Homo sapiens: one gene and its partner. The protein of the gene in region 2 purifies or fractionates together with the protein of the main gene of each other region. This does not show direct contact. Each region holds a gene or a part of one and is shown on either strand. Other genes may lie near its edges. The genes, in order: BUD23 and PPIP5K1.

The links.
Region 1: the proteins of PPIP5K1 (region 2) and BUD23 fractionate together in Homo sapiens (co-fractionation; one large-scale study listed by BioGRID). This does not show direct contact.

What each region holds. Positions count from the first base shown.
Region 1 is NC_000007.14:73,693,516-73,696,390, reverse strand, and holds part of BUD23 (18S rRNA (guanine-N(7))-methyltransferase), read right to left. Parts: intron 2,768-2,875; coding exon 2,722-2,767; intron 2,400-2,721; coding exon 2,341-2,399; intron 1-2,340.
Region 2 is NC_000015.10:43,566,151-43,569,967, reverse strand, and holds part of PPIP5K1 (inositol hexakisphosphate and diphosphoinositol-pentakisphosphate kinase 1), read left to right. Parts: intron 1-632; coding exon of another isoform or gene 633-782; intron 783-1,414; coding exon 1,415-1,505; intron 1,506-3,817. UniProt on the Homo sapiens protein: Bifunctional inositol kinase that acts in concert with the IP6K kinases IP6K1, IP6K2 and IP6K3 to synthesize the diphosphate group-containing inositol pyrophosphates diphosphoinositol pentakisphosphate, PP-InsP5, and bis-diphosphoinositol tetrakisphosphate, (PP)2-InsP4.

The DNA of each region.
Region 1 (2,875 bases), on a different chromosome or scaffold from region 2:
ATAAGGCAATGTGTACTTCCCCTGGGAGGGAGGAGATGGGAGTGCTCCCTGGGAGCACGAGATGGGCGCCTCAGAGAAGAGGTCATCCAGAAGGGTCCCAGCTCCCCATGGGGAATGGACTAGGGAAACTAAGGGAAATGAGCAAAGACCCAAGGGGTCAGGCAGCATAAACCTATGGTGGACGTGAGGAACATGCATGGCTGTGCCCAGCTGTGGGCCTTCCAAACACATGCATTTTGGGCTCATTTTTCCTCTTAAATGTCTTAAAGGTCTTAAGACCTTTCCCTCATGTCAACTGGACCTCAGATATAACCTCCCTCTTCACTACCTTATAATCAATTATTCATTCAGAAAAATACTGAGCACTTTTTACTAACAAGACACTATTTTTAATGTCAGGGATATAATACCAGTCCTCACCAAGTTTTCACTCTAGCTGGAGATACAAATAATAACCAAGTCAACTGGTATGTGTATGACTTAGAGCAGTGAAGGGTGTTAAGGAAAATCAACATGAGCGGGGAGCACAACTGCAATGAAGGCACTAAAAGAGCAATGACAAGATACAACTTACATTTTAGAAAAAAAGAAAAAGACCAGTCTTGCTGCTATGCAGAAAATAATCTGAAAGAGGCAAAGACTGCAAAGGCAAGGAGACAACACAGGCAGCTGTTCAGCAATCCAGGCTAGGGGCAGTGCTGGATTAGGCTCGTTGGAAGCAGGGAGGGTCAGCACGGGGATACACACTGAGGGACGGACAGCAGGGCTCAATGACAGGCTGACAAGATGTGAAATGTAGGGAAAGACAGGAATGATCAAGAATGGTAAAGAATGGAGGATGAGGCCAGGCGCAGTGGCTCACACCTGTAATCCCAGCACTTTGGGAGGCCGAGGCGGGCGAATCACGAGGTCAGGAGTTTGAGAACAGCCTGGCCAACATGGTGAAACCCTGTCTCTACTAAAAACACAAAAAATTAGTTGGGCGGGCGCCTGCAATCCCAGCTACTCGGGAGGCTGACGCAAGAGAATCGCTGGAACCTGGGAGGCAGAGGTTGCAGTGAGCCGAGATCAAGCCACCGCACTCCAGCCTGGGGGGAAAGAGTGAGACTCCATCTCAAAAAAAAAAAAGAATGGAGGATGGCCAGGCATGGTGGCTCACATCAGTCATCCCAGAACTTTGGGAGGCCGAGACAGGGGGATTGCTTGAGGCCAGGAGTTCAAGATCAGCCTGAACAACATGGCAAGACCTCATCTCTACCAAAAACTTTAAAAATTAACCAGGCATGGTGGCATGCACCTGTAGTCTCAGCTACTTGGGAGGCTGAGGCAGGAGGATCATTTGAGCCCAGGAGTTCGAGGCTGCAGTGAGCTAAGATTCCACCACTGCACTCTAGCCTGGGTAACAGAGAGAGACTACCCATGGAAACTCCAGGTATAGACACTGAGGGGGCATTGGGAAACCCCAGGTGGCAAGAGACTGAAGATACACATTTGGGAATTAGGACCTTCCGGCTGGCATTTACAGCACCACAGGTAGAGAAGGGATCCAATCCAGGCTGGGCCCAGCACTCGAAGAGGAAGCAGCAGTGGAGTGAGGAGCAGCCAGGAAGGCTGAGGAAACCACGATGGTGGGTGGAAGGCCAAGTGAAGGAAGCGTCAAGGAGGGAGCGCACTGCTGTCTTTGACCCTACCGAGCAGGCACATTAAGGACATGAAAAAAAGTCACAAGTGACCAGATGTGGCTTGATGGAAATTGGTGGTGGAGTTGACAAGAACAATTTGTGATGAGACAGAATTGTCAGCCTGAGAAGTGGATTGAGAGAATGGTGGGAGGGGAAGAAGAGGCAGGTCTGAGTTCTGCTATGAAGGGAAGCAACAACGGGGTGGTTAGTTGTTGTTATGGGGTTAAGGAAGGAACTTTTCTAGAAAAGGAGAAATTGTGCAGCATGTCTGTGTGCCGACAGCAGTGACCCAGGAGAGTCAAGATGAGGATGCAGGAAGGAAGGGAGAGCCACAGCACCCAAGGGAGAGGGTCCCAGATGCAGGTGGAGGGCAGCATCAGAAAAGAAGGAGACAGCCTGCCAGGCGTGGCAAGGGGAAGGGGCATGTGTGGGCTCACAAAGGGAGTCCAGGCTGCATGGCTGCACCCAGACATCCAGGACCCCAAACCCCTAGCCCCAAACAGGCACAGTCCAAATGGGACCTGATGTTTCTACCGTCACCTTGGTGTCCCTGCTGCATGTGACCTGAGAGGCTTGGGTGAGGGCAGAGAGAAAGTCCATGTCTAACAAATGTGGCAGCCCCCGCTGCAGCCGGGGCAGGCTTCAGCAGTTGCTTTACCTCTCATTGGTGAACACAGACTCCCTGGGTTCAACTTCATCCTGATTTTCACTCAGCCCCTGCAGGAACCAAAGTGCACTCAGGTCACCCTGGAGAGTTCTCAAACCATCTGCCCCACTCCAGAAGCCCAGGCACCCAGGCCTGACCCTTCCGACAGGGACGAGGTCCAGTCCCACGAGAAGGAACTGACACGCCTTTCTGGGACCTGCAGAGCAGAGGTCTCTGCCTCCAGATTCCAGAGGATGTGAGCACTCCAGGGTCTGCACTCTGGGGCTGGGCCCTGCTTCCCCACCAGTGTTCTCCCAGCAGGCTCTGCAGGCTGAGCCCCACTGCCTGGAAGTCAAAAGACACAGGCCTGCCTGCAAACCCAGTGTCCCTCACCTCTGGTATAAAGGTCGAAGGCCCAGAAAACAAGCAGAGGTAGAATCTGAAAGGAGAAAGTGCAAAGTGAGGGTTGGGTGGAGAAAGCCCCACAGGGAGACAAGCCCTCAGCTCCCCCACCCGCACCCCCTCCGCCTGCCTGGACCCTGGTGAC
Region 2 (3,817 bases):
GCGTGTGGTGGATCACACCTGTAATCCCAACACTTTGGGAAGCCTAAGTGGGAGAATCATTTGAGGCCAGGAGTTCAAAACCAGCCTGGGCAACATGGCAAGATCCTGTCTCTACAAAAAATTTTAAAACATTATAAGATGGAAAAAAAAAAAAGGCACAGGTAAAGGAAAGCTCTGTGTATCATCTCTCAGACTTGATAAGATTGACTTCTTTCAGGCCTATGGGAAGCTTCCTATTGTAATCACAGGCTTTCTTTTCAATTACTAGTGCTGCTTAGACCCTGGCTTATCCAGGGTGATGGTTGTCCAGGATATTTTCCTCAGCTTTGCAAGAAAATCATCTCTCTGCTCCTTGGTCACAAAGCCTTATGATACTAATGTTAATGTTTATCTTCCTTGCTCTATAAATATAGGCATACAACTTATCCTTCCCTCCATCCCTTCTTCTCCTCTTGTCATCTCATACTTTTTAACTATTTTAGATTATAAAACTTACGACCTTTATAGCAGCTATGCCCTAGCTGGTCATCCTCTCTAGCCCTGTAACTAGCTCTGCCCTGTGGGCCCTGGGGCTTTTGGGAGCCTGGGGTTTAAAGGAGCCGTGACCGGCTTTCCACCCGGTCTGATTGCAGGTCATGAACATGCAGTGCACGGGGAACCTGGACCTCATCCCCTTGCGGGGACGGCGCTGCAGGAGGTCGGGAGACCTCCCCCAGCCTTCCCTAGCCATTGGCCTACAGCCCCGGGCTGTGTCCACCACTCACCTGGCATCCTGCACACAGGTGTCCCTCCCTACCTCACCTTCCTGTCTTGCCTTCTGTCTTTGCCTTTTGGGATCTAGGGGCTCAGACACTATCTGGGTGGGATGTGTGTGTTTTGGGGGTTGTGTGATTGGGCCCTTGTGGGCATTGTAAAAATTCTGTTTCATGTTTCTAGGGGTGAGACAGTGGAGGGGTGGGCTTCTTGGTTCTAACAAGGAATGTAGTATGGTTGCAGTAGCCACAGCTCTCCCATGCAAAGAAGAGAGGGTGGCCAGACTCTTATCTGTGGCTGAGCCATTGTGATTGGCTTTCTGAGTCTGTGGGGGGATAGATACAATTAGGAAACTCTGCTCTGCTGAGAACTAGGAATGGGTTGAATAATGATTTCTCAAACTCAGATTGGGAATGGGAGGGCTGTGGGGAAAGGCATCTTGAAAATAGAAGTGCCTTCTAGTATAGAAAGATGCCCCGGACAGTTCCCTCCATAAAGTACATTCTCTGTTCCCTTTTCATCCCTCTTCCCCTATAAATCCTTTGGTACTTCCAAACTTTCTAACATTGCTTGGCTTTGTAGGGACAGGAATCCAGGACCTGAGTTTTATACTTTGGGGTTGAGGTGGCAAAATGATTAATATAGAGTCCTTTTTCTGCAGGTACTTTCTGAGACTTCATCCTCGAGGCCTGGTGGCTACCGGCTCTTTTCATCTTCACGGCCACCCACAGAAATGAAGCAGAGTGGCCTAGGTATGGTTTTGCCAGCATTTCTCACCTATTGTTGGAAAAGTTGTCTGTCTGTTCTTCAGAGTTTTATTGTGGGAAACCTTTGTCATGGGATTTGGGACCGTCCAATCAGTGGAATATCATCAGGTGGAGGTAGGGAGGATGAAGTGGGAGAAGCCATAGTTAGATGTGAACTTGGATCTCAGATGATTATTCCATCCCAGGAAGGTGTTTATCTCTTGGTTTTCTATACCAACCACATTTCCCTGGCCAAAGGGCGTTTTTCTGGCTTTCCCTCTCATTCCTTATCTGTCCCTCCAGTCTAGCCCAGACCTTAAGGGGCCATGGAGACTCTGAACCTTCAGAGTTATCAAAGACAGAGCTATAAATAGAGGTACTTGCAACCCTCATAAATGTCGTATTCCTCATTTGAAGAAATGTGCCACGTCTTCCCCTGAAACCTGTGTTTTTCACATCCCCGCTCTTGCCCTTCTTACCACCTTGCCCTTTCCTCCATCATCTCCTAATCCTGTAACTTTTTCCCCTTCCTTCTGGAAAATTGACCAGTCTGAGACTGGTGTAGTGGCAGAGGCATCTCTCAGGACTTTGAGGAAATGTCTCTTGATTTTTGGATCCCTGGAAAGGGGTAGAGAACATCACTCAGCTTTTTCTAAGAGCACAGACGGCAGGAAGGACCAAGCCTCAGAGGGTATTGTATTCTTTGGGTGGGGGGCAGTCCTTGGGAGGAACTATCTCTGAGCACAGTGCCTTGTGAGCCAGTAATTAGAACTGGAGGTCAGACATGGTTGTGTGGGGTCTGGTCTTGGTCCTCTGGCTGTTTCTGTCTTGTCCTATTATTCTCTCTATTTAGCGCCTCTAATTGTTCTGTTGCCTTTGTCCTTGGCAGCCATTTTCTTGGCCCCAAAATGGTCAGCTTTTGGACTAGCAAGGGGGAGAAAGGTTTTGGTAACTTTCCAGGCTAATTTTATGAGAATAAGTTGCCTTCTAGATTCCTGAAATGAGGAAGATGGTATGGGGCATGAGAAATAAATGACAAGTGTGTAGATCTGGCCAGGCGCAGTGGCTCATGCCTATAATCCCAGCATTTTGGGAGGCCAAAGAAGGCAGATCACTTGAGGTCAGGAGTTCTGAGACTAGCCTGGCCAACATAGTGAAACCCCATCTCTACTAAAAATACAAAAATTAGCTGAGCATGGTGACGCATGCCTGTAATCCCAGCTACTTGGGAGGTTGAGACACGAGAATTGCTTGAACCCAGAAGATGGAGGTTGCAGTGAGCTGAGACTGTGCCACTGTACTCCAACCTGGGTGACAGAGTGACACTCTGTCTCAAAAAAAAAAAAAAAACCCGAAACAACAATAGTGTAGATCTAAGAAATGAACCTCTCTTCCCAGAAGTCCCAGTAAAGAATAGGTTTCAGACAGACTAGAAAAGAGGATAGGTGTGTCTGTCCCAGTTAAGTGGGCCGTGGGAATGCTTTCAAGAGCAAGGCAGAGGTATGGACATGGAACTGGTTGGCAGATGGTGGTGGTAAGGTAGAGACCACCCTCTGAGATGATCTGAGGACTGGGCAGAACAGAGTTGGCATGACTGCACCAGAAAAGTATTCAGTGGAGGAAGTGTATGTAGGACAAAGCTTGGGGTGGTCTGGGATAGAGCCAGCTAGTTTTAGCTTCTCTGAAGAAAAGCAGTCATATTTAGCAACTGTTATTACTCTCTGGAATCTCATTCCAGAGCCTGTTTGAACATGAAAGGTGGAGGAAGTTGCTGTATAGGGGAGAGGTCCTGAATTCCAGGGTGGGAATCATCAGGCATCTGAACTTCCTGATTGCTCTGGTGACCCCGAAATCCTGGGACCCCTGAAACCATGGTCCCTTCTTGGTGGCCTCAAGGGAATTGAACTCCTTTCCACTCCATCCATTTCCCCTATGAATGTTAAGTCCCAAGCCAAACCCAGGGTCTTGGCTAAGATGGATTTGGAAGTAGAGAGGCAAATCCTGAGAACTTGGGTATCAGTCTTGTTTCTTCTTGACCACTCTGTCCTTATAGGCTATAGTAGGAGAAGGGACCGTGGAGTCCTAACCCTCCTCTAGATCAGCTGTTGGGGACAGTGACTGGTCTGATTTATTTCATACTTCAGAGATTATTCAGATTTTATTTAATCCTCTCATTGGCAATGGAATTCTCTTTGTTTTCTTAGAATTTATATGTGTGGGCAACTGGCTTTGAGCATAGGCTTACATGATAATACACTTTTGCAAGCAGAACAAACATGTCTTTTTGTTGTTATTTCCTGTATTCCTTCTTAGTAGGG